Homo sapiens: one gene and its partners. The protein of the gene in region 3 interacts with the protein of the main gene of each other region in a pairwise test. Each region holds a gene or a part of one and is shown on either strand. Other genes may lie near its edges. The genes, in order: KPNA5, KPNA3, HNRNPC and EPS8.

The links.
Region 1: the proteins of HNRNPC (region 3) and KPNA5 interact in binary tests that used the Homo sapiens proteins (3 or more experiments, as listed by UniProt).
Region 2: the proteins of HNRNPC (region 3) and KPNA3 interact in binary tests that used the Homo sapiens proteins (3 or more experiments, as listed by UniProt).
Region 4: the proteins of HNRNPC (region 3) and EPS8 interact in binary tests that used the Homo sapiens proteins (3 or more experiments, as listed by UniProt).

The regions. Positions count from the first base shown.
Region 1 is NC_000006.12:116,677,374-116,684,231, reverse strand, and holds the start of KPNA5 (importin subunit alpha-6), read right to left. Parts: upstream 3,022-6,858; 5' UTR 2,898-3,021; coding exon 2,894-2,897; intron 2,786-2,893; exon of another isoform or gene 2,740-2,785; coding exon of another isoform or gene 2,680-2,739; intron 1-2,679. UniProt on the Homo sapiens protein: Functions in nuclear protein import as an adapter protein for nuclear receptor KPNB1. Binds specifically and directly to substrates containing either a simple or bipartite NLS motif.
Region 2 is NC_000013.11:49,698,814-49,705,705, forward strand, and holds the end of KPNA3 (importin subunit alpha-4), read right to left. Parts: coding exon 6,808-6,892; intron 3,668-6,807; coding exon 3,573-3,667; intron 3,086-3,572; coding exon 2,987-3,085; 3' UTR 507-2,986; downstream 1-506. UniProt on the Homo sapiens protein: Functions in nuclear protein import as an adapter protein for nuclear receptor KPNB1. Binds specifically and directly to substrates containing either a simple or bipartite NLS motif.
Region 3 is NC_000014.9:21,224,433-21,231,461, forward strand, and holds part of HNRNPC (heterogeneous nuclear ribonucleoproteins C1/C2), read right to left. Parts: intron 6,641-7,029; coding exon 6,565-6,640; coding exon of another isoform or gene 6,526-6,564; intron 5,935-6,525; coding exon 5,887-5,934; intron 1-5,886. UniProt on the Homo sapiens protein: Binds pre-mRNA and nucleates the assembly of 40S hnRNP particles. Interacts with poly-U tracts in the 3'-UTR or 5'-UTR of mRNA and modulates the stability and the level of translation of bound mRNA molecules. Single HNRNPC tetramers bind 230-240 nucleotides.
Region 4 is NC_000012.12:15,667,361-15,674,389, reverse strand, and holds part of EPS8 (epidermal growth factor receptor kinase substrate 8), read left to right. Parts: intron 1-3,466; coding exon 3,467-3,534; intron 3,535-4,564; coding exon 4,565-4,726; exon of another isoform or gene 4,727-4,730; intron 4,731-4,853; coding exon 4,854-5,003; intron 5,004-7,029. UniProt on the Homo sapiens protein: Signaling adapter that controls various cellular protrusions by regulating actin cytoskeleton dynamics and architecture. Depending on its association with other signal transducers, can regulate different processes.

The DNA of each region.
Region 1 (6,858 bases), on a different chromosome or scaffold from region 3:
ATTAGAAACTGCTCAATATGGCCGGGCGGGGTAGCTCACACCTGTAAACCTAGCACTTTAGAAGGCCAAGGAGAGTCGATCGCTTGAGGTCAGGAGTTCAAGACCGGCCTGGCCAATATAGTGAAACCCTGTCTCTACTGAAAATACAAAAATCAGCTGGGCATGCTGGTAGAAGCCTGTAATCCCAGCTACTCTGGAGGCTGAGGCAGGAGAATTGCTTGAACTCGGGAGGCAGAGGTTGCAGTGAGCCAAGATCGCTCCAGCCTGGACTCCAGCCTGGGAGACAGAGCAAGACTCTGTCAAAAAAAAAAAAAAAAAAAAAAAAAAAAAAAAAAGGCCGGGCACGGTGGCTCACGCCTGTAATCCCAGCACTTTGGGAGGCCGAGGCAGGTGGATCACAAGGTCAGGAGATCGAGACCATTTTGGCTAACACAGTGAAACCCCATCTCTATTAAAAATACAAAAAATTAGCCGGGCGTGGTGGTGGGCACCTGTAGTCCCAGCTACTCAGGAGGCTGAGGCAGGAGACCCCGGGAGGGAGACTCCTGGCATGAACCCCGGGAGGCGGAACTTGCAGTGAGCCAAGATCATGCCACTGCACTCCAGCCTGGGCCACAGAGTGAGACTCCATCTCAAAAAAAAATAATAAATAAAAGAGGGAAACCGCTCAACATAACTTTACTAATAACAATGTTTGGTATTATTCTCTATTTTATATCTATAAAAAGCTAGACTCTTGAAAGGAAAAAATTAGAGATCAGAGTTCATTACAGTGCAAACTGACCACAGTATTAGTTGTTGAATTACGCTCAATATATATAAAATATTTAAGTAAAATAAAATGCTCATGGAAATAAAACTCTTAAAGTATTTATCACCTATATATGTAGCATATTCTAGGCCACTGGCTCTAAACGTTTTCAATCACACATCCTACATTCGTAAAATACATTTGTGCATTCATCCTCAATATATTTATTTCTATACATGCATTACTATTCTAATATACTACTCTAGCATAAAATTCACAAAAAACAGAAATTTTTAAGAATGAAAGTTTTAAAAGGTAAACAAATAGAAGTTCTAATATTTTCTTACCACATCTGACTGGATCACCTTGTGCCCCACCACGCACACATACAAAGGCGCTACTTATGAGACCATTAATCCAAGCAACCACATTGTAACTGTTCAGCATAAATTTTAGCCAAATAAAATACAGCACCAACAACTCAGATATCACTTGTTCCTTTTTCTTCAATAGTACTGACTTCCGGCTTCAGATTTAACACTGCATCCATCCTCACTGCAGTTGCTTTAAAGGGGACAATAAACCAAGGGAAATTATCTCTAAAGGGGCCCCATCCAATGGGATTGTTTCGTTCACTGAAAAATAAATTTAAAGGCTGCACTTCAAAGGCTGAGGTCTCATAAAAATTAAATATTTTTATTTAGAAATGTTATTCCAGCACTTTAAAGTTACAGAATAGAGGAATTTTTTTCATTCATAAGCTTTCAACGGCTCTTAGAAAAACCATGTTTAAGTTGGGCAAATAACTGGAATCTGAACTTATGATTTTCTTTAATATCAATCGACATTATTTCTTATGCCAGTAAAGCCTTCATTTCCATGGGGCTGGGCGCCTCATTAGTGAAAGTAAAAGACTGCACAAAGCGGGGGAAGTGCCAACTAGAGAGCCCTCACAACCAAACAAGCAGTACTTAGGTCGGAGGGAGAGAGTTGCTCCTGACCTACCAAGAAAACCACTTTTGTACAGAATATGAGTCATCATTATTGGGTGTTGTAATTGAGAGATAAATCATTAGTGTTTTTGTCTTTTTTAAAAAACATGTCTAAAAAGCTCAAAAGTAAATGCCAGTGTCATATTCTTTTGTTTGTTTTTTGAGACAGAGTCTCGCTCTGTCGCCCGGGCTGGAGTGCAATGGCGCTCTCGGCTCACTGCAAGCTCCGCCGCCCGGGTTCACACCGTTCTCCTGCTTCAGCCTCCCGAGTCGCTGGGACTACAGGCGCCCACCACCATGCCAGGCTAATTTTTCCTTTTTTTGTATTTTTGGTATTTTTTTTGTATTTATTATTTTGTATTTTATTTTGTATTTTTTGTATTTTTGGTAGAGACGAGGTTTCACCGTGTTAGCCAGGATGGTCTCGATCTCCTGACCTCGTGATCCGCCCGCCTCCGCCTCCCAAAGTGCTGGGATTACAGGCGTGAGCCACCGCGCCCGCCGCCAATGTCATATTCTTTAGACATATCACTGTCATTTCACAGCTTTCAAATACTTCCATCTCCTATGTATTATCGATGAAAACCTAAGTTTTCATCTTAGAACGGAGCTGCCCGACTATTAGAAGCGTGGAACCCAGGCTTGCCTTGTCGTCGGGAATGAGCACTAGAGGCACCTGCACGCAGGTGGAGGAGGGAGGCTGGCGGATGGAGAGGGCGAGGCTAGGAGGCCCTCGGGATGGAACCTGTCTCTTCTTTGGACACTGTGGAATTTCCATAAGCTGCTGGACACAGCTGATGGGTACCAGGTATGAGTGGCAACGTTTGGCAATTCCATTAACTGAAAAGAACTACCGAGAAACGGTGAGGCGGGGCGGCGAAGATGAGACCAGCTGCCCATCACTCCAGAGGACCTGCTGAAAGAATCTGAACTCACCACGCCTTCGCGTCCGCAAGGGAAAGGTCCGGCTGCCACGCCCCCGCGACCGCTGTCGCCCTGGGGAAAACACGAGAAACACCCGGCACCGCCAGGTTCCAGAGACCTTCGCAAAGTAAGGGGTAAATAAAAACCGTGGCCCCAGGAACTAGTAGTTCCCAAAGGGACCAAAACCGAGGCTCCCCCAACCTAGCCCGTGTTCACTCCAACTTACCCATTAATGTGGCACTCTCCGATGCCCTGATTTCCCAGTCCCCAGCGGCGACGTGTGTGGCGGGTAACAGAAGGGCCGCCACTCCGCCCCTGGCGTGAAGCGTAGCGACCCAGTTCGCAATCCAAGATGGCGGCCACCTGCGCCCCTTCTCCGAGACCCCGAGGCTCGGCTCCCAGAAGCCCTTGCACTCGACGCGGCGGCGGCGGCGGCGGCGGCGGCGGCGGCGGAGGAGGAGTGGTGGCCGCACATCCTAGCAGTGGGGCGTAGAGAAAGTGCGCGCCGCCGTCCCACCCACCGAAGGAGGAGCCTGTGCCTGCGACAAGCCCTGGATTTTAGTTGCGCTTGCGGTGGCCATGCTGTAGGTACTCTGCGGCCCGTAGACCTCCGTGTGTGCAAAGGGACGACCCCTCATTCATTCATTCTTCACGCGTGCGTGCATGCATACATTCTTAAGGATATAAACTGTGTCAAGTACCATTTTAGATACATTATTGGGGCTACAACAGTGCAAAAAAGTTGGTAAAAATCGCAGCCTTGTTAAGTGTACGGAGAAGCTCACGTTTTCTTCAGCTTCATTAACTTTTATATGCTCTGCTCGTTTTATTTCAAGCTTTTTGTCATTTATAATTTTATATTCTATAACATCTGCGGTTTTTTGTTTTTGTTTTTCTGTTTTTGGGGGGTTTTTTTTGAGACGGAGTCTGGCGCTGTCACCAGGCTGGAGTGCAGTGATGCGATCTCGGCTCACTGCAACCTCCGCCTCCCAGGTTCAAGCGATTCTCCTGCCTCAGCCTCCCAAGTAGCTGGGACTACAGGCATGCGCCACCACGCCCAGCTAATTTTTGTATTTTTAGTAGAGACCAGGTTTCACCGTGTTGGCCAGGATGGTCTTGATCTCTTGACCTCCTGATCCGCCCGCCTCAGCCTCCCAAAGTGTTGGGATTACAGGCATGAGCCACCACACCCAGCCACATGAGTGTATTTTTGACAGCAATGTAGTCACCAATAAACGAGTAACTTCAGTTAAAGTACTGTAGATTATAATACACAGCCCTGTAATCTACCCTGGAGTTCAACAAACGGTATTGAAAACAGACTGTGTTCCAGATGCAATAGGAAGAGAATAAATAAGATAAACAATACATAAATCCTGCCCAGAAGACGTTTGCAATTTTTTAAGAGGAAAAACATGAAGACAAATTGTTTTAAGATGTTTGCTATTTTCAATAGTTGAAAAATAAACAGGAGAGAAGGGATTATTTAACTGTGGGTATGTAGGGCTGAGAAAGGCACGCTTGACAAAGGAAACCTGGGCAGTGTTACCAGAAAGCGTTGCCAATCATGAGTCCATATAGTGAAGTGAAAGCAAGTTTATTAAAGAAGTAAAGAAACAAAAGAATGGCTACTCCATAGGCAGAGCAGTGGCTTGGGCTGCTGGACTGAGTATATAGTTTTTTTGTGTGTTGTTTGTTTGTTTTGACACGGAGTCTTGCTCTGTCGCCCAGGCTGGAGTGCAGTGGCGCCATCTCGGCTCACTGCAAGCTCCGCCTCCCGGGTTCACGCCATTCTCCTGCCTCAGCCTCCCGAGTAGCTGGAAATTTATTGTATTTTTAGTAGAGACAGGGTTTCACCGTGTTAGCCAGGATGGTCTCAATCTACTGACCTGGTGATCCTCCTGGCTCGGCCTCCCAAAGTGCTGGGATTACAGGCGTGAGCCACCGCGCCCAGCCAGTTATTTCTTAATTATATGTTAAACAAGGGGTGGATTATTCATGAGTTTTCAAGGAAGGGGGCAGGCAATTTTTGGAACTTAGGGTTCTACCCTCTTTTAGACTGTATGACTTCTGGATGTTGCCATGGCATTTGTAAACTGTCATGGTGCTGGTGGGAGTGTCTTTTAGCATGCTAATGCATTATAATTCACGTATAATGAGAAGTGAGGATGACCAGAGGTCACTTTTGTCTTCATCTTGGTTTTGGTGGGTTTGGCCTGTCTTCTTTACGACATCCTGTTTATCAGCAGGGTCTTTGTGACCTGTATCTTGCGTGGACCTCCAATCTTCTGTGACTAAGAATGCCTAACCTCCTGGGAATGCAGCTCAGTAGGTCTCAGCCTCGTTTTACCCAGCACCTGTTCAAGTTGGAGTCACTCTGGTTCAAACGCCTCTGACAACAGGACTATTGGAGTACTGATAGGAGTTTATTTGCCTTAATCACCTGGCCACCCTATCCCTTTCTTATTTCCTCCCTACTCCTCCGTCCTGGGAGACTGAATTCAAATAGACAATGGCCAGAGAATATATACAAATAGAACACTAACCTACAACCTTCAACAACCAGTCCAGGAAGGCAACCTACTATGTCCAGTAACCAGTCCAAGAAATCAGATTACTATATTTAGCAACCAGTCCAGGAAGCCAAGCAATAACCCTTGTAGCAATCTACCCCAAATGGCCAGGACGTGATTAATAACTTACAGCTTCTGTAAGTTTTGTCAGGGCTTCCAACTCAAGGCCAGCTAGAGAGAGCCAAATATCTACCCACCCCTAAATAATTACATAGGATGCCCTGCTTTTAGTTAGCCCACCTGCAGCTTCTCCATGCCAACAGCCTTGAATTGGCATACCTGAAGCTTTCCCTTTTTTCCACTCTAAAGCTTTCTCACTCCTCTGCCTGCCGTTGAGTCTCTGACAAATGCAAGTGATGATGGCTGACTCCCTTGCTATTGTAAGCTCCAAATAAATTTGGCTTTGCTTGTTCTCATTTAGATGGTCTGCACTTGTTTCTATACTCCTGAAGAAGATTCCTGCTATCTGGACATGCCTTCCCTCTGGATAGATATGGCAGAAGAGATGATAATGGTGTCTTTTAGACCTCTGCTCAGCAGGGTCTAGGTCCCGGCTTTTCATATCCAGGAAAGAACTGGAGGAATAGGATTGGTATCAAGATGCTGACTTCATTAGTTGTATGCAATGCCAACCACAGCAACTTCCTACCAAGACCTGACCTTCTATGGCATCTTTCCCAATCTGCCTGTCAAAATAAAATCCACTTCTCAGTGGTCCTTTTATCCCAAAAGCTGCTGCCTCAACAGTAGAGAGCGTATTGCCCTATTAGCTTACCTCCTCCACAAGCCATGATGGAAAAGAAAGGGTTCTAACCCATTGGCTCACCAATTTCTTTTTACTTAAGCAGATGCTATGGTCTGAATATGTTTGTCCCTCTCAAATTCATGTGTTGAAACCTAACCCTCAAAGTGATGGTACTAAGAAGTGGGGCCTTTGAGAGGTGATTACATCATGGGGATGGAGTTCTAATGATGGGATTAGTGCTCTTGTAAAACAAGGTCAAAGGAAATGCCTTGCCTATCCACTATGTGAGTGTAGAGGTACTGTCTATGAGGAAGCCGGCTATCATCAGACACTAAATTTGTCTGAGCCTTGATCTTGGACTTCTGGCCTCCAAAACTGTGAGGAATACAGATGATCCTCAACTTACAATGGGGTTATTTCCCAACAAACCCATCAGTAAGTTGAAAAATATTGTAAGTCAAAAATGCATTTAATACACCTAACCTATTGAGCCTTATAGCTTATCCTAGACTACTGTAAACATAGTCATAACACTTAGGCTACAATTGGGCAAAGTCATGTAACACAAAGCCTATGTCAGAATAAAGTTATAAAGAATTTTTGAATCAAAATTCAAAATTTGAAGTATGGTTTATTATTAATGTGTATCACTTTTGCACCATTGTAAAGTTGGAATGTCATAGGTCAAACCATCATAAGTCGGGGACTGTCTGTAAATGTTTACTGTTTATAAGTCAACCCATTTTTGGTATTTTTGTTATGGCAGCCCAAATGGAATAAGGAAGCAGGTAAGTTATCAAAGTAAGAACATACTTCTTCTGAGATCCTGTTGATCACTGCAAAATTAAAATTTGATATACTTAACTTTACAAT
Region 2 (6,892 bases), on a different chromosome or scaffold from region 3:
TTTTTGACAAAGCTTTGATTCCTTAATCAACTGCAAATAAGAAAATCTGTGAATTCACCTATGACCTATAAGTCACCCCCTGCCACCCTCGGCTTCAAGACAGCCCACCTTTCTAGGCCAAACCATTGTGTACTGATGTACAATTCTGCCTGTAATTTATGCTTTCCTGAAATTCACCCCTGCCTTTAAAAACCCTTGCTTGTAAAGCCATGAGGGAAGTTGGGTCTTAAGTGTGAGCTGCCTCATTTTTCTTGTTTGGTGCCCTGCCTGCAGATAAATGCCCTCCTTTTTCCTGCTGCAAAACCTTGCTATGAATGTTTGGCCTAACTGTGCCAGGTGAACAGACTCCAGTTTAGTTCAGTAATATGGTGTGAAGGAGATATTAAAATACAGTAAAAGAGTAATTCATGATTTACCTCCATTGTGATTTTTAAAAAAATAATTCCAAATTTAAATTTAACCATACAGAAAACAAACAAGTTATTTTCAGAAATAAGTTTTCAATGTTTTATCATATTTGATAGCAGCTTTTTTTATTGGTTACAAAACCTAAGCCCATATACAAAATTAGGAACACATTTAGATGCCTCTTTTGAAAGAACGTTTTAGTCTTTTTAAACTGAGTTTAAAAAAAAATAACAATGCAATTTTTAAACACTGTTTTGAAAACTTAAAAGTGCAGCAATATACTTAGTTTCCTTTATCTACGAAATGGTGCAATTCCAATTCAAAACTGGTAAGGTCACAAATTGAATCAAGGAAATGCATACAAGTGTCTGCACTACTTGATGCTAATGTTCACTTAAATGTTAGTTTGCACTTTAAAACATGAGAGGAAATAGGAATCATCACAGTAGAGGCCCAATTTTAATCATAATGTGTGCAAATTTTAAAAGGTAACTGTCAGTTAAGTAAGGAAAGTCCAGAAGAAACTAAACTGGAAGGGGTACGGTTCACAATATCAAGAAGATTTGGACTTTTAAGGGTTTCACCGAAGTTTGTGACCTTAATTAGCTTTTACGTTGTTATTCCTACTTTTAGCGAACACCACACAGTTTCAAAAATTTAGACTATAGTGTCCGAACAGGATGCAGTTACCATATGAAGCTTTAACTCAAAATTTGGATAAAGAAAAAAAGGCACAATGAACTTCAACTCAATTTTATGTGCACAAGAGTTGAAAAATCTGAGCCACCTTAAAGAGAAATTGATTCTAAAATTTATAAAACCTATAAATAATCAGAGGCCAAACCACTATATTAAAACAGATTCTCTAGCAAGTAAAAATCTTGCAGTTTAAACATACGCTTGTATCCACTTTAGATACAAGACAAAACTCACTCTTTAAAGTGGCTCCACCTTGGCAGATACATATATTTGTAATGAATGCACACCTGCTATGTGTTGTTTATCAGTGAAAACACCCCAGCTGATTCACAAAGCTCTGATGGCATCTGTCTCATCTTCATCACAGTAAATACACCCCCCAATGGATAACTAAATTAGTTTAGATTTTCTATCCCTTCACATCAATGCATTGGGAAATTATACCCAGTAAACAAGAGCAACAATACCATTTCTGTGACAGCACAAATTATTTAGTTTAAAAATTTTTAAATCCATATTCTTTCATTAATAACTGGGTCAGACAATTTACCAAAAGCAATAACTTGACATAGTAATACCGGATTTTGCAGAATTACTTAGAGATCACTGCAAATCAGGTTTATGTTAAATAACTGCAAATTACTCCTCTACACAGATCCCTGTCTGAATCTTTTAATATGTGAAGATGCTTTTTGAGTAGGATCTGAATTAACTTTCCCAATACTCAAAGAATGAACTCTTATGACACTTCTAAATAGTTGCTGGTTTGTTGCCAACCACATTATCAAAAGCACTGGTTACTAAGTAAAAAATATTTTAAGACTAAATTACAGTAAACATGAAAGCTCCACAGTTTAAACCCAATATAAATCAACCATATCCAATTATCAAATTAAAACAAAGAATATTAACTCCTGAAAGCTGAAAGCAAGATTTTTTTAAAAAACATCACCAATGGGTATTTTAGACTTTTGCAGTTTTTTTTTGTTTGCTTTTTGTTTTGCTGTTTTTCCTTTATACTCAGGGACTCTTGCTTTCAACTTAAACAGAAGTTCAAGTCCATAACAGGTTGCAGCTCAGGTAAAATACCATGCACAGCATTTGATTACTTCAAAACAGCAGGAACACACAGGCTGAAGAGAGTGGTCAAATAGGGCTTGCTGTTCTCAAAAATTAGGTATAATGGCAAAAGCATTAATATCCATATCTAAAGTTCTTCCTCCAACCCTGGCTTCTGAGGCAGATAATAAACACATCAATTACTGGTAGATGAAGTAGTTTTTTTTTTTTTTTAAACTTATCTGTTTATTCAATAACCAAGTTTCTTGTTTTTAAGTTACTTTTTTTGTGTCAGTTCCACCAATGAAAATCATTTGGCTTGTACTTTAAAATCTATTCTTCCACATAAAGAATATGAAAATATGTTTGTGGAGGACAATGATGGAGGCTCAGATCACACTGCACCTCTTTAGTCTTCCAACTTGTATATGCATCATACCAAAGTGTCTTGATCCACAGCGCACCATTTTCCAAAGGAGTATCAGTGGGCAGCTGACATGTCACCACTATGGAATATTTATTCTAAACTGGAGACTGCAGTTGTCAGCCTGTGGCACCAGGGAACAGGGAAAAATAGGGTAGTTGAGATTGTTAAGGAGAGTTCTAAAACAGTTTAGGAAATCATGCATATGCATTTACAGTCCATGTGATAGTGACTTTTGGCAACTGCAAAGTGACTGAGACATGGCTTGCTTTAGAAGCATCAAAACAAAGAGGCATGTGTGTTTTGGAGCCTTTTGTTGCTGTTGTTCTTATCATTTGGTAGCCATCTGGTGGTGCTTCATATTGAATGTGGGAAAGATGCTGCACTCAACTGAATTTAAAAATTAAATTCTTTTGTTTGAAGGTTGGCTGTTGGATCAAAATTGTAGGTACCTCCTTGTGTTGCTTCAGGAATGAGGCAGGGATCTTCATCAATCTGTAAAAAACAAGAAAAAAATCCTTATTAGGTTATGATACTATACATTATGATGTAAGTGGAATTGACTTTTTACCTCTTAGCAAATAATTCTATGTGAATGCTTTAACCAACTAAAAATATTCGAGTAAATCAATAATTTTATTAAGAAATTTAACAATTTAAAATTTAACACGTTTCGAAACTGCATTGTTAAGTTTCTGTATCTGGGACCTAGATTTATTTAACCTATCTGAACATATATCACTTATATAATTACTATTTCTTCCTAGTTAATAGATTAGAAATGAAACAAGAACTGTTTTTACAACTTTACCTTATAATGAAGTTTCAAAGTATTTAAGAGAAAGTGACTGATGGAATGTCTAATAGAAATACAGTACAAACTTATGTCATCCTAATAATAAAAGGAAAACTCTTAGTAAATTTACATCATGTATAGGTTTTCATTTACATGAAGATACACGCTATTTTAATATCTACTTACATCATCACCAGAGAAATACTGATCTATGATTTCAAATGCTAATTTATATATGTCTTCATTTTCATGTTGCTGTAAAACTTCAATTTTCTCCAAACCTGGTAAAAATAAAATAATCAAAATAACTGGTTAATTGATAAGGAGATACTAATCAAAACCACACTCATTTTAATCATGGAGAAATCCTAAGGAACTCAGAACACACTGCTCCCCCATCTAAGATAGTGGTTTGTCTAAAAAACAGACAAAACACGGGGCTGCTTCTAGTTGGAGGACCAGAATCCCACTAATTTTTTCCTTCTTAGAAGCCCTTGAGGTACCCGGATCCCTGAGGCAGACAGTCTAAAAAAACACCCAAACAATCCATTTGACAGAGGGAAGCTGTGGCATAAATATGTAAAGAGACTTATTTCAAGTTATATGGCAAGTTTGTGACAGTACTAGAACCAACTCCCCCACAGTGCTTTAATATAAATTTACTAATCTATTTTTTTTTTGAGACGGAGTCTCGCTCTGTCACCCAGGCTGGAGTGCAGAGTGCAGAGGTGTGATCTCGGCTCACTGCAAGCTCCGCCTCCTGGGTTCATGCCATTCTCCCGCCTAAGCCTCCCAAGTAGCTGGGACTACAGGCGCCCGCCACCACACCCGGCTAAGTTTTTCTATTTTTAGCAGAGACGGGGTTTCACTATGTTAGCCAGGATGATCTTGATCTCCTGACCTCGTGATCTGCCCACCTCGGCCTCCCAAAGTGCTGGGATTACAGGCGTGAGCCACTGCGCCTGGGCATTTTTTCTTTCTTTCTTTTTTTTTTTTTTTTTTGAGACGGAGTCTCACTCTGTAGCCAGGGCTGGAGTGCAGTGGCACGTCTCGGCTCACTGCAACCTCCACCTCCTGGGTTCAAGTGTCTCCTGCCTCAGCCTCCCAAGTAGCTGGGATTACAGGTGCCCACCACTATGCCCAGCTAATTTTTTGTGTTTTTAGTAGAGACGGGGTTTCACCATGTTGGCCAGGCTGGTCTCGAACTCCTGACCTCGTGATTCGCCCGCCTTGGCCTCCCAAAGTGCTGGGATTACAGGAGTGAGCCACTGCACCCGGCCAATCTTATTAATCTTACTGCCTCATAAAGTAATTTGTATCTTTCTCTTTGTTTTCCAAATGTTATTACCTTTATATAACCACAAAATGAGTTTTTAGAACCTTATAATTGGTATAAAAGATATAAAGATTTAAATTTTGAAAAACTTTCTTTAAAAAATGAATAGAGGTCTTATGTCCTATAGCCACAATGAACCTGGGAGAAAATATTTCCAGAACAGATATCATAGAATGCCTTCATTTATATTTCCAATATATTTACTCCACACATCATATACATGTTTATCAATTTCACACCTTAATATTCTTCCTTGAAATGTCTTTTTGAAGGTTATTTTAAAATAGTTGCAATTTTTTCTTATATACTAATAAACCAAAAGAATGGGGGAAATCGTTGCCAAAGTGCTTTATACAATTATAAAATATTAATATGTATCCTATTACTCCTATAGACAAAAGTAACTATATTGATAAAAAGCTGAAGAGTAGTAATTCTCTAAGTTGCTCAAACTTACTGTGTTATGAACCTGACTACAATTTTTAATTATCTTAATAGTAAGAAGATCTGGATTTTAACTTTGCTTCTATCACAACCTACTTCTGTCACCTTGGACAAGACTCCTTAAAATCTGTGGGATAATTTCTTCTCAAGAAACCCTCCCGGCTGGGTGCAGTGGCTCACGCCTGTAATCCCAGCACTTTGGGAAGCCGAGGCGGGCAGATCACCCGAGGTTGGGAGTTTAAGACCAGCCTGACCAACACGGAGAAACCCTGCCTCTACTAAAAATACAAAAATTTAGCCGGGCGTGGTGGTGCATGCCTATAATCCCAGCTACTAGGGAGGCTGAGGTAGGAGAATTGCTTAAACCCGGGAGACGGAGGTTGCGGTGAGCCATTACACTCCAGCCTGGGCAACAAGAGCGAAACTCTGTCTCAAAAAAAAAATAAATAAATAAAAAATAAATAAATAAATAAATAAATAAATAAATAAATAAATAAATAAATAGAAAGAAAGAAATCCTCCCAGTCTGAATATTCTACGGTACTACTGCATTTGTTTTCTCTTAAAATAAATAAATAAATAAACAATAGAATATTCATATAAAGTAGTCAATGAAATGTAAAATCTAAAACATGACATTATGATAAACTAATTTAAGGTTTAAACATGTTAGTACATATTGAACATGTACATTTAAAAACAGAATTTTAACATATGTTTCACATGTCATTAAAGAATAATACAGTATGTCAAATCACAATTATTTCTCATTAAAATTTCAAAGTAACTGCCACAGTAATAACTTCAGGATGTAGTTGTGGAAATCCTAAGAATCATTACAAGATTGAAACAAAATATCTAGGTGACTCAGAAGTCAGTAACCTTTTCCAACTATATGAAATAATATTTCCTAAAGTGGGGTCCACAGAATTACATGGTAATAACACACAAAAAAAGTGTTTCATTGTTAAGAAGTTTAAGAAATGCTGGATTAAATAAAGCTTTAAAATTTATGTAGTGTTGTAAGGGCTCTTAAATTTGCTGTCATGCACTGTGACTTCAAGAGAAGTATTAGTGTTTCCTAAAATGCAATGTCAGGCCAGGCGCAGTGGCTCATGCCTGTAATCCCAGCACTTTGGGACGCTGAGGCAGGTGGATCACTTGAGGTCAGGAGTTCGAGACCAGCCTGGCCAACATGGTGAAACCTCGTCTCTATTAAAAACACAAAAATCCACTGGGTGTGGTGGTGTGCGCCTGTAATCCCGGCTACCTGGGAGGCTGAGGTGTGAGAATTGCTTGAACTCGGGAGGCAGAGGTTGCAATGAGCTGAGATTGTGCCACTGCACTCCAGCCTGGGCGACAGAGCAAGATTCTGTCTCCAAAAAAAAAAAAAAAAGCTATGTTGTCAATCTCTAGAAGGCTATACAGTGACTTTCACAACCTGATTTTGCAAAGTATGGACTACTGTCTTCTGGAAAATCCTCTTGGAATGCAAATATAGTGAATAAAGAAAAGCAACATACTGTGATCATTTAAAAACAACGTATCCTAGTAATTTTCTGTCTAGTAAGTTGACTTTAAAGAACTTATGTTTCAGAGTTCCAGTGCTCAAATACTCTTCTTCCATCAATCCACTCTTACCTCCACATTCCTCTATTATTTCAGCTATTGTGCTTGCTTCATCACCGGCCATTATCAGAATGTTTTTTAGACCATCTAGAACCAC
Region 3 (7,029 bases):
GTGAAACCCCCCTTCATGTAACCATTAATGGCATAATCTATCATCTAGTCACGAAGACAAAATCTCAGCTTTTGACTATTATTTTCCTACAAGCACCTACTTTCATACCTTTAGTCCAACCAATCACATCAAGACCAATCTACTTCAGAAATTCTCCCAACCTCCTCTCCATTCCAACATTTACAATGTTTACCATTTAACACATCTTTTTTCCTCTAGCCACAGGCCTGTTTCTAAAATACCATCTATAGGACACAATCCCAGAACATGTAATACAAAGCCCTTTACAACTAACATTCTTTACAATTTACTTTACAGCTGGCTGCTCCTCAAACACATCAAGGCCCCTCACAACTCAATCTTTGTTACATGTGTCATCTTTGACCTGTGAGTTCTTGAAGATTTGTCTATTTCTAATGCACTGACATATTAATATATTTAGCCATGGAGTAATAACAGCACTCTGAAAACCTCTAAGAATTTCATACTCGTTACTTATATACTGTATTACTAGTCATGCACCACATACAAAATGTGCTAAGTTTAAAAAGTCCTCAGAAAGACCATTGAACTAAACCAGTCTTTTTGAACCAGGTTTCTTGCTCACCAAGTCTCCGCTGTCATAATAAAGCCTGTTATCAAACCTGCCATTTATTGGCAGTTTCTATTTCGTGTTGCCCAAAGTTCTCCAAATAAGAATTAAAGAGGCCAGGAACGATGGCTCACATCTGTAATCCCAGCACTTTGGGAGGGCGAGGTGGGCAGATCACCTGAGGTCAGGAGTTTGAGACCAGTCTGGCCAACATGGTGAAACCCCGTCTCTACTAACAATACAAAAAAAAAAAAATTAGCCACGCATGGTGGCAGGCACCTGTAACCCCAGCTAATTGGGAGGCCGATGATGCACAAGAATTACTTGAACCTGGGAGGTGGAGGTTGCAGTGAGCCGAGATCGAGCCACTGCACTCCAGCCTGGGCAATAGAGCAAGACTCTGTCTCAAAAAAAGGAAAAAAAAAAACAGAGAGAGATGAGACGACTCAAGAAAAGAGCTGACAGTAAATCAGTCTCTATGAAGGCTAGCAAGATGTCCCACAATGACTGAGAGTTCTTTTAATTCTAAAAGGTGTCCATCCTCAGGCGTAAGAGTTACCTTTTGAGGCTGGTAGCACCAGACGGGTTTCATCTATGTCTCTAACTGGCAAGTATCCTGATGTAGGTAGGGTCCACGAGATATGACAAAAAAGAATGACTGTCCATAAGACAGTGATGTATCCTTTTTCAATTGTAATGTCGCATCCATTTTCAATCAAAACGTCATTCACATACCATAAAATTCACCATTTAAAAGGGTGCCACTCCGTGGTTTTTATTAGTTCTGCAATATCACCATTATCTAATTTGAGAACAATTTCATGGGTGATCAATTATAAGGGAAAGTGGGGTTCCAATTTATTACAATCTGAAGAAAATATATCTAGTTTATATCTAGATATAGTTTTAGTATGAAAACACTGCAGTATTTGTGGCACAAATCAGAAAACACATATAGATCAAGACTTTTATGAGAATTTTTTAAAGAATTATAAGAATAGTGCCAGGTTGGGCCAGGTGCAGTGGCTCATACCTGTAATCCCAGCACTTTGGGAGGCCAAGGTGGATGGATCATGAAGTCAGGTGAGGAGTTTGAGACCAGTCTGGCCAACATACTGAAACCCCATGTCTACTAAAAATACAAAAAATCAGCTGGGTGTGGTGGTGTGCACCTGTAATCCTAGCTACTCAGGAGGCTGAGGCAGGAGAATCTCGAGAACCTGGGAGGCGGAGGTTGCAGTGAACCGAGATCTGCACCACTGCACTCCAGCCCGGGAGACAGCACGAGACTCGTTTCCAAAAGAAAAAAAAAAAAAAAAAAGAAAGAAAGAATAGTACCAGGGTAGCTGTTGACGAACATCAATTTCATGTATATGCCAGCCTACCTAAGGACTTAAAGATCTATTTTTAGAGTACTTCCCAATCTCGCTTAATTCAACAACTACAGCTTTGAATACTTGTGCATTCCCAACATTGTGATAAAAATTCACTTTTATTACAACACCTTTCGCAAAACAAAACCAGCGCCTTCAAATGAATATTAAAAAGAGGGCCAGGCGTAGTGGTTCACACATGTCATCTCAGCACTTTGCGTGGCCAAGGCAGGGAGATCCCTTGAGCCCAGGCGGGTGGACCACCTGAGGTCAAGAGGTCAAAACCGGCCTGGCCAACGTGGACAAACACTGTCTCTACTGAAAATACAAAAATTAGTTGTGTGTGGTGGTGCACACCTGTAATCCCAGCTACCTGGGAGACTGAAGCAGGAGAGTCGCCTGAACCCAGGAGGCAGAGGTTGCAGTAAGCCAAGACCAACCCACTGCACTCCAGCCTGAGTGCCAGAAAAGACTCCATCTCAAAAAAAAAAAAAAAAAGGGGGGGGGGGGACAGTGATTTTTACTCCGATTTACATATGAAGACCCAGAGCTTTCACTCAGAGCCAATTTCCCATCTTCTTTGATTAAACAATTTAACATAGTCAATGAAGTATCGCTGTTACCATTTAAAATAAAAATCTAAACCTTATGATAATGAATCTTCAGAATGACTTCTTAGAAGATATTAATACCATTTTTCTAAGTTGTTATTCCACCAGGTCATACCCAACCTATTTCCCAGGTCCAAATTGACCTAACATTTTCCAAACCAGCAAAAAACTCCTGTATCTGCCCCTCTCCCCACTAAACAAACACTCCTCCTCCTTTCACCTTCATTAACATCTATCATGTAAGACACACACTCAATTCCTCAATTCTCCAACCCAACTTGAGTAAGTTCCCATCATGTGGACACCTCCTAAAATTCATTTTCCCAACAAAGATCTCAGTACTCTAAAAGTCAGCTCTTTGCCAGCTATTACCTAGTTGCTCCACTAGTTATCAGTAATCATTATCTACTGGCTGACGTTAGAACAATAGAAGACATTACTTTTCACTGACAATAACATGCAGCAATATATCCGACAGTAACTACTAGTATCGGCTGGTGCAAAAATAATTGCGGTTTTGCTTTTTACCGTTCAAAGAAATGTCAAAAACGGAATTACTTTTGCTCAAACCTAATATATTGTTGTCTATTGAAAATCTGAAGAGGCCACCAATTTCTGTGAAGATATTTCTGCAAACGTGATTTCTTTAGATTTCTCTGCAGTATATATCTCATTGTCTCAACTAATGTTTTCCAAATTCCCTGCTCAAATTTTCAAATTTCCCCATTCACAATGTGCCTTGCCAAGAAAAGACTTTTTAATGAGAACTATTTTCAAGAAGACTGTCACTGTATACTGCTAAAACTTGATACACTCATAAAAAACATCAACTAAGAGTCCATGACATCCCTGAAATTATACCAACAAAAGTGTGAGTTTATTAAACTGGTCTGAATTGAGCCATGACAAAGAAATAGGATAATAATACACAGAAACACAACCACGTCCTTAATCTTTTATTAATGATTCTCAACTCTGACTGGACAAAAGAACACATAGAAAGCACTGAAAAATATACTAGTACTTAAGAAAGTCTGCATAAGACCAGTTGTGTAAGAATCCCTATAGGAGAAGCTGGCATGAGTATATTTTAAATGTGGTCAAGCAATTACCATGTGCAGAAAGGGTTAAAGGGCAGATGCTTCAGACAAACTCACTGGGTTTCAGTGCCTTCAAGACACCTGACCAATAATTAACCCATCTATGCCTAATGTTCCATTACTGGAATGCTAAGCTTGTCGGAGTTATTTATATCCTACTGCATTAGGTCATTACCAAGGTCTGATTGCAAAAATTCAAAAAATTGCAATTTCAGGAATAAATGGGCTGAGTTCACTAGTAATGTCCTGATTTATTTTCAACTGGAAGTTCTCCATTGATTTTTATTTTGTTTTATTTTTTGAGAAGGAGTCTCACTCTGTCACCCAGGCTGGAGTGCAGTGGCGCGATCTCAACTCACTGAAACCTCCACCTCCCGGGATCAAGCAATTCTCCTACATCATCCTCCTGAGTAGCTGGGACTACAGGCGCGTGCCACCACGCCCAGCTAATTTTTGTATTTTTTTAGTAGAGACGGGGTTCCACCATATTGCCCAGGCTGGTCTTGAACTCCTGACCTCATGATCCACCTGCCTTGGCCTCACAAAGTGCTGAGATTACAGGTGTGAGCCACCGTGCCCAGCTGATTTTTATTTTTTAAGAATTTCAAAAATTTCAACAAAAATAAAAATGAAGAATTACAGAACTCCTTAGTTTTCAAAATGTTCACACATAACTGTAAAAATCTGAGGAAAGGGCTGGACACAGTGGCTCACACCTGTAATCCCAGCACTTTGGGAGGTCAAGGCGAGTAGATCACCTCAGTTCAGGAGTTCGAGACCAGCCTGGCCAACATGGTGAAACCCAGCCTCTACTAAAAATACAAAAATTAGCCGGGAGTGGTGGTGCATGCCTGTAACCCCAGCTACTTGGGAGGCTGAGGCAGGAGAATTGCTTCAACCAAAGAGGCGTATGTTGCAGTGAGCCAAAATCACGCCACTTCACTCCAGCCTGGTGACGAGAGGAAAATTCCGTATTTAAAAAAAAAAAAAAAAAAAATCAGGCCAGGCGTGGTGGCTCACGCCTGTAATCCCAGCACTTTGGGAGGCCAAGACGGACGGATCATGAGGTCAGGAGATCGAGATCATCCTGGCTAACACGATGAAGCCCCGTCTCTACTAAAAATACAAAAAATTAGCCGGGTGTGGTGGCGGGCGCCTGTAGTCCCAGCTACTCAGGAGGCTGTGCCAGGAGGCGCAGCTTGCAGTGAGCCAAGATTGCGCCACTGCACTCCAGGATGGGCGACAGAGCGAGACTGTCTCAAAAAAAAAAAAAAAAAAATCTGAGGAAACCGCTAATGTCAAATGAAAAAAACATTTTGATGATGCATTAATGATGCTCAACCACACCATTTTATTATGGCATTCAAGGCCCTTTACAATCTGGATTTGAATTCCTTTTCGGGCCTTACTCTTCTGGCCTTCTAATGACTACGTACCATATTCTGTGAGGTTATTTCTCAAACAGAAAGTCTATACTTTCATGTCTGACACTTTCAGTGTATACTTTATGGTATTTAACGGCTGACTTGATTCCTTTACAACTCCCATGCATGACTGATTAACTCAGTTCAAATGTTAAGCATTCCCCAATCAGTAATTTTTATTCCAAAATCAGACTGAATTGTTATATACAGTAATAACATTAAAATACTAATGACTGGAATACTGGCATTATAAGACAAATAGTATATAAAGTAATATGCTTTATATATTGCATGTTTAAAGTCTATTGCATACAATAGTTTGCTCCATATACTTACATATACTGCATGAGTTTGAACGCGACAAGCCAAATAAGTCTTAACATTTCCTTCATGTTAACTGAGACTGATGTTATCAGAATGTCAATGTGGTAACACTCTTAAGCACATCATCCTATTTCCTGTTAAGCATTTGCTATCAACAGTTCTAAATCTGTTACCCAAAGCCACCCATAACCCAGTCCCTAGTCACCACACTCAGCGAATTTTTTTGTATTTTTAGTAGAAACGGGTTTCACCACGTTAGCCAGGGATTATGAAATAATGCATTAAAATCAGTATCACCCTACCTAATAATCTACTTAATGATTTAGAAAAAGGTGTTTTTTTGTTTTGGAGTTAGGGGAGTATGTTTGAAAACATCTTTGATGTTCATCACCACAAACCAGAAGAACGAAATGGTTCTCACTAAATAGCTGTTTAGCAGAAATACAAAACATTTTAACATACCTATCATAATAGTCCCGTTGAAAGTCATAGTCCAAGTCAAAAGAGGAGCTGAAAAATAAATACCGAAAAGGGTTAATTTGGAAATGTTTCTACTAATTCACAATGTCAGGTGAGGGGAGAACCATGCCAAATAAACCACAACAAATAGATCAACAAGATTAGCACTGAATGATCCCCAATCATTCATACAATAAATCACTCAATTCCAATCACCTTAGACCACTGGAAATGTAGCGGTCAAATTGGAAATTCAGGTTAAAATTCGCTAAGATTTCCACATACGACATAGCTAAACTAAACACTGAAAAACAGAATGGTAAACTAAGCATTCTTATACCACACTTCTACCCTCTCTTACTCTCTAGTGTCTTAGAAGCTCAACGATCCTGTATAAGTATTTCAGGTTATGCTATAAATATCAAACTACTCTTTAATATCAATAGCAAAAACCTCAGGGATTTTTAATTCTCTAGAAATTTTCTCTAGGGCAAAAAAGAGACATATTAACACAAAAATAATAAAACCTTATTTATACACAGATAAAACACAGTACACTTAAACCTCCCCACACCCAGAAAACAGAAAGAGAAGATGCCCACTGATGGACACAATGCAGTTATAAATAATAAAGTTCCGGACCTGAGTAGAGGGGACGGAGAAGGGTGTTCTGTTACTGACCCGTACATCTCCGCTGCAGATCGTTTCACACCTGCTTTTCCTCGGTTCACTTTTGGCTCTGCAGCCAGGTTAATATCTGAAAAACAAAAGTAAAAATGTTAATGACAACTTTGTATCCGGGTAAAACAAACTACAAAGTTTATTTTTTTTATTTTTGAGACATAGTTTCGCTTTCTCGCTCAGGCTGGAGTGCAGTGGTGTCACCTTGGCTCACTGAAACCTCTACCTCCCGGTTCAAGCGATTCTCCTGCCTCAGCCTCGAGAGTAACTGTCACTACAGGCGGGCACCACCATGCCCAGCTAATACAAACTACGAAGTTTAGAAAATCACACAGACACATAAATTAGAAAATGTGGAACAAAACAACTCATCTTTCCTTAAGACACTGTCTCACTGTCATACAAGCTGGAGTGCAGTGATGCAATAATGGCTCAATACAGCCTAGACCTCCGAAGCTCAGGTGA
Region 4 (7,029 bases), on a different chromosome or scaffold from region 3:
TTTGTAAGTATAAAGTAATATGAGTTCTAGCCCATTGTTTTATTTAGAGAGAGGAATACTCAGCAGCTGCTTTTATGTTACTTTTTTCTTGTTAATGGCCAAATCCTTACTCTCTAAGGAACATTTTTGTTTTTAGAGAAAGAGAAAAAAAATTCTAAATATTAGCTGTATCTTTGAATATTAGCCGTTTCAAATGTTATATTATGCATAAACAGCAATGCATGTGAAAGGGAATTAAGTGTAAATACCAACACCTGGATGCTTTTTATACTTGTAGTTCAACTAATTAACAAATTAAATGAAACCTAAATTTAGTATTTCTGATCTGGGAGTTGAATATCAATTTTTGCAATAGTGTATGATAAAATTGTATGTAAATATTTTTCATCGTTGGTTACTGAATTCATGTAATTCTGTCTGTTTGGAGTTGTACATTCTGGACCATGACATAAAAGCTAATAGACAAAATAGTGAAACACAACCAGTGGTTCTATAGCCAAGTAAGTTTCATCCTACCTCTAATTGATTCTGAGCGAGAAAGAGAGGCAGGGGCCAGAATAGGAGGGGAAATAGACTTAGTCTTATGTTAGGAGTTGAGCAGCTTGTACTACTAGAAACCTAAAACCCTACTGCCATGTTTATTCATGAATTTATTATTTAATATACCATTTGACGATATTTACATTCTTAATTTGGAAAGGAAAATGTTCTGCTTGAAGAGATAGTATATAGTAGATGAGTTGCACACTGTTTTATAAAGTTCATTCCAACATGCAGCCAAGGATGAGAACCACTGTTAGCAAAAGTGGTGAATTTCATTAGAGGATTCATCTTGAGTAGTGTTGAGAGATTTTAGTTAGGCTTTTTATACTGTTTTAAGGCTTTGGTGAGATTTCTAGCTTAGGAGCCTAATTACTATTTATACCAGTTCTTGTGAATACATGTGATTCTCATAAAAAAGAAATGTATTATAATTGCCTTTTAGGAAATGTCTTTCAAAATTGCCTATTAAAATGTTAATATTAACCTTTATGGATTGACTTAAAAATCACTGGAACTACTAGTTTATTTATAAGTCCATTTATGGCATTTATACATTTTTAGGATCTTTAAAAGGTAGTTTCTTATACAACTTATTTATTGTACAACATAGAGAAAGCAGCTTAGGAATTCCTAAAGTGGATTCTTAATTTGGAATATTAGAAATGACACCATATCTTCTAGGCACTCAGAGTGATCGGTTAATGTCATACTGTTTAAAATGCTATCAGATAGTTTTTCTTCTCATTTCTGTAAATTATGTTTCTGTGGGATTGGGAAACTATGGGTTAGGAAATCAAGAGGTCAGGGATAAATTCTTAATACTTCATAATGAGAATATCTAAATAGAAACACACAGTATTTCAGATCTTCAACTGTTGTATTTGCCAATAAATTACCTGAAAGACAAAGCATTTGAACATCCAGGAGCTGCCATATCATGACTGGGTGTCATGGCAACCACTGCCATTTCTTTTCTGTCCTAAGGTCAGATCAAAGCAAGCCGAGCCCTCCTGCTCTGAATCTATCGTGGACAGTTGTGTTAGAATATGGTGAACCAGTGACTCTGAAATAGTGATTATTTCTAGATGTGGTTTTGTGAAATATATTCCTGAATTATATATTGTATTACAAGAGTCATAACGGCTGTCACAGGGACAATTATCGATGTGTTAATATCTCACACTGATTAATCCTCAACAACTAATCAGAAAAATCACAGTCGCTCACTTTTTAAAAATATGTAGAATACAGTCATGTAAGTGAAGGTTTATGTTTTGTTATATTGGGAGAGAAAATTTTAGGTGAAACCAGATCTTTCTTTTTGATGACATTATTTTGGTAGGACCAGATGGATCATACTTCCTCAGGTCATCATCCAAACAAAAAAAGAAAGGTAGCACAGAGTGAATTTTGTAGTGCATCTGTTTTTATTAAGTAATTTTAATGCTGCAAAAGCAAAAATGGAGTGTATTGGAATATCAGAGTAATATTGATACAAGGACATGGAGATTTTAATCTAAATTTTAAAAGTAAATATAAATGAAATTCATATGTGTTGTAAAATGAAAATTTATTAAGTTTTCTTAAAATTCTGTGTTAATGTTCTGAGTCTGCATATGTATATATGCACTTTATATTTTTGTACTTGCTCAGCTTTTATGTTCAGCAGAACTTTCCAAACAACTTATCTATTATAGAATATCTATACTAACTAAAAGAAATAGGTTTACATTTACAAAAAAATAGGTTGTTGGGAAAGCTAAGGTATATCTATATGTCAGAATGTTAATGGCTTAAAGGCCTTTAGGTTTGACCTTGTTTAATCCTTTTATTTTACAGTAAGGGTGCTGAGGCCCAGGGTATTAAGTTTCTTGCCCAAATTTAGTTTCCTACTTAGTGACAGAGCCGAAGCTGGAACAATAAATCTTATAATTCCCTCTCAGAGTTATTTTTCATCATAGCATTCTGTTTAGAAGAAATAGGGCAACTCTGAATTTACAAATAAGCAAGTTGCTTGATTAGAAAAGTAACAAATAGTGCTCACTTTGGCAGCACATATACTAAAATTGGAATGATACAGAGATTAGCATGACCCCTGTGCAGAGATGGCACTCAAATTCATGAAGTGTTCCATATTTTAAAAAACAATACAAATTTTAAAAAGAGAGTAACAAATACCAAATATTGCCGACATACATTTTATATTTTAATGTTATTTTTTTGGTTTTGCAGCATTTCAGAAAAGAAAATTAAAGGTTTCTTTTTGCTTTTTAAGTAGTTTGGTGCAATAACTTTCTACCTGACTTTCTTGTTTTTCCTATCAGCTTATATTTATAATTCTAAGTATCACATTTGTGTGTTTTGTAGATGTGTGAAAACTGTTAATATTTAATGGCAAGCCATGTGATTGAATCATGTTTTAAATCTCCTCTAACACTATCCCAATTTGGATATTGCAAAAGGAGATGTTCCTTGTAATGCCTATTATTTTAATAATGTAGTCTAACTCATATAATACAGTATCTATGACAATATTTGCAATTACATTTTGATATCAGTGCAGTAACAGATGAAATTTATAAGCCAGTTGTAATTGACTTGTCAAACAGTAGGTCCCTGACTGATAAATAAAACCTTTAGATGAAATAACTTTTTTTCTTATAATATTTATACTCTTGTTAACCTTTGGAATTCTAAAAATGGATAGTGGATCAAATTGTTCTTGCCTATTATTTAGACTTTCTTGTGGTTTTTAGATTTACTGCGAATAATGAGTGTTTTCAGATACACCACACAATGGCAACTTGTCAGCTACTGTATTTATATGTGAGATAGACTAGTTTTAGAGATAGCCACATGATACCAACATATGAACTTCAGTCTATTAGGGGACAAATCATGGCTTTTTCAATTTCTCTTTCAGAACAAAGGAAGAATTATGCACGGGACAGTGTCAGCAGTGTGTCAGATATATCTCAATACCGTGTTGAAGTAAGATGCTTTGGTGTTTGCTAGTATTTAGAGTGACCCTTGAGGAACATAAAAATTGGAAGTTAAATCAGAATTCTGTTTTATTTCATTCTTATGATGTATTTTAAGTTGCATTGACCTTTTTGTTTAGATTTTTTAAAACAGATATTACATATAAAGTATCTTGTTAGTCTGTGGTCTATTTTCATAAAGAATGATTTAAAATCATAACTACTATCCATTTATCCTTGCCAGTCTTATTTCACTTATAATAGAATAATGGCTTTTACTTTGTACTATAGAATCTTCTTGAAATTAAGCCTTTGCTAGTTTCAGTGAGCAATTTAGTTTTTAGTTTAACTAAAGTTATTGCCAGTTCTAGTTAAATAATGGTTCTTTTTTAGTTTTTGCCCTCTTTTACGATATTTGCTCTTGATTGGAATTTATCTGGTTGACCTGTGCTTATAATAGAAAATATTTAAGCAGGGAAGTAATTTTTAAATTGCTCTTATTTTCAGTTTTCTACCTATGTCAAGCATGCTTAATCAAATTTAAACAGTTTTGTTTCAGTAAGTGGTTTTAGTGGATTGAATAGTTTGACAGTTCCTATAGACTAGAATTGTGCTGTTGCTACAATCAGTGTCCATAGTTTTGAAGCTCCCATACAGATAGCCTGCTGTTTAAATGCTGCTATGTTCAGCATTTAAATAACCATAATAGAGTGTCAAATAGGGGAAAGTTTATTTTAAGAGAATATTATTTAAGCTGTTAAGAATTTGTTTTAATGTCATGTTTATGTAGTTCAACATGGCTCCGTATGAAACAGATTTAGGTATCTTATGAGTCAAAACACCATTTCTTCTATTCAAAAAAAACCTTGGTTGGCTTTATTCTCTCATTAAAATAGTCATGAAGTTTTAAGAGTACTTTGTGTTTGTCGTTCTCTGCTAGCTGACCTCAGGTTATTTGATTTTCTTTTGGAAAATGTATACTAAGAGGTTGTATGTGTTTGTATGTGTTATAAATCTTTTTCCTTTTTGCCAATTGTAAGCACTTGACTACCTTTGTCCTGGATCGGAAAGATGCTATGATCACTGTTGATGATGGAATAAGGAAATTGAAATTGCTTGATGCCAAGGGCAAAGTGTGGACTCAAGATATGATTCTTCAAGTGGATGACAGAGCTGTGAGCCTGATTGATTTAGAATCAAAGGCAAGTGTGTAAAATTTATACTATTTTATTTTCAAGAAACTCCACAAATATTAATGTTTACAATCATTTCAGATTGTTTGAAAATGGATGGAAGTTTGACAAAATAAAATGTTCACTTTATTTATAGAATGAACTGGAGAATTTTCCTTTAAACACAATCCAGCACTGCCAAGCTGTGATGCATTCATGCAGCTATGATTCAGTTCTTGCACTGGTGTGCAAAGAGCCAACCCAGAACAAGCCAGATCTTCATCTCTTCCAGTGTGATGAGGTTAAGGTAAAAGAATGGTGAAATTTTTGTTTCTTCTTTAAGCAGATTGTCTGGGAGCTTTTGAATTACCTATTTTGATAATATATCTGCATATTAGTTACTAGATTTTTAGTTTCTGAGCATCTCGTAAGGAAAACAAATACCTTAGTATCTTCTCTAGGATTTCCATGGCAAGTAAATAAAGAAATTAGGGTGATGTTAATCAAATCAGTAGTTCACACTTGTAATCCCAGTGCTTTGGGAGGCCAAGGCTGTAAGATGGCTTGAGGCCAGGGGTTTGGGCCCAGCCTGGACAACATGGCAAGACCCAGTCTCTACTAAAAAGGTTTTAAAAATTAGCTAGATGTGGTTGTACACGCTTGTAGTCTCAGCTACTCAGTTGGCTAAGGGAGGAAGATCTCTTGAGCCAGGAGTTGGAGATTACAGTGAGCTATAATCACCCCTCTGCACTCCAGCCTGGGCAACAGATTGAGATTGTGTCTCTTAAAAATAAGATGCATTCTGTTTATTTTTTTAAAGTGTAGATAATATATTAAATTCACATCAAATGCCTTAAACTTATAATTAAAAATTGATTGTTCAGAAATCTTGCTTTGTGGACAGTAAATAATCATGTAATTTGAATTTATTCTGCACTAATGACATAGCATGGATTACTGCAATGAAGTACTTAGACATTTCCCACGATATTGATTTAAAGTTCACCATTTAATTATGTGACTTGATTCATTGCTCAGGATTTGTAATTCCCAGATGATATGTGAAAATAGTTGAGCCAGTAATAACAGGCTATATCCTGAAAGTTTCTATTTCAAAGTACAGTGTAATTTCAAATGATTATAATTTGTGATGCTTTATTGGACCTTAGAAGTTATCTTCAACCTTGAATGTGTTTATTTCCTCAGTTGTTTTCTTTAAAAGAGAAATCATTTTGTGTTAATTGGTACTTTGCCAAAGCAGTGATTTAACATTTTGATGATATATTATAAAATATCCATGTAATTTTATTTTATAAAGAAACTCTAGGAGATTAGCACAGTTACTTGATCTTTTCTGTGTTTTTTGACATTTAAAGATGATAGATAAAGTAAGATTGACTGTAAACTGTATTTTATAATTTTCTTCTAATTTCAATTTACGTCATGGATGACTTTCTAAAAACCTTCTTCTAAAAGAACTGGCATTTAGGTAATTTGTGTAAGTGATATTCATCAGATTTTTGTATAGTGCCTTTTGAAAGTCATAGTATATTATAATTTTTGTAAGGTTAGATATATTCAGTCAATAAATATTAAAGGGAATATTTTGCTTTAAAAATATAGTGAAATTTAATTCAAACATTTTTATAAACCAGAGGCCTAAGTTGAAAAACATTTCAAATTTGATGTTTGTATCTGTGTTCTAAAAAGCCCCCCCCGGGAGCTAAAAGTTACTATGCTGTGAAAAGTTTCTGGATTTTAGGTTTGGGAACAAATGGCTTGCTTTACTTGATATGGAATGGTAATGATAATGGATTCAAAATGTATTTACTGAATATAGTTTTGTCCTAACCCCAAAAGCTCACATACCACGAAGCACTGTATGCATTTACTCATTAGTTTCATACTCTGCATATGAGACATTTTTCGCTTGGCTGGTTAAAAATATAGAGGCAATGAAAAACGCAGTTTCTTTTATATGGCTCATTGTGCAATATTGCTTTTGATTTTTAAAGTTTCTTTATTATAGGACTTCATGCAATGCTCCTGCCCACCTTTGCAGTAAAATTTTTCTTAGAAATATAATAGCCCCAGTATAAGAAGTTGAAGATTCCTAGGCATCTTCAGTTTTCATTTTGGGTTTTTTTAAATAATTATTTTTAATTAAATATCTTTTCATCTTCAGTTTTAGTATCCTATGTAACAGAAAGCCTTTGACACGATATTTGTAATGTCTTATTGAAACTAAATGCTCTTAGGAAGTCACACTGGACTGGGATGCATTGGCCTCTCATTTAACTAGCAATGTGACCTTGGCCAGGCCCTTTTATACA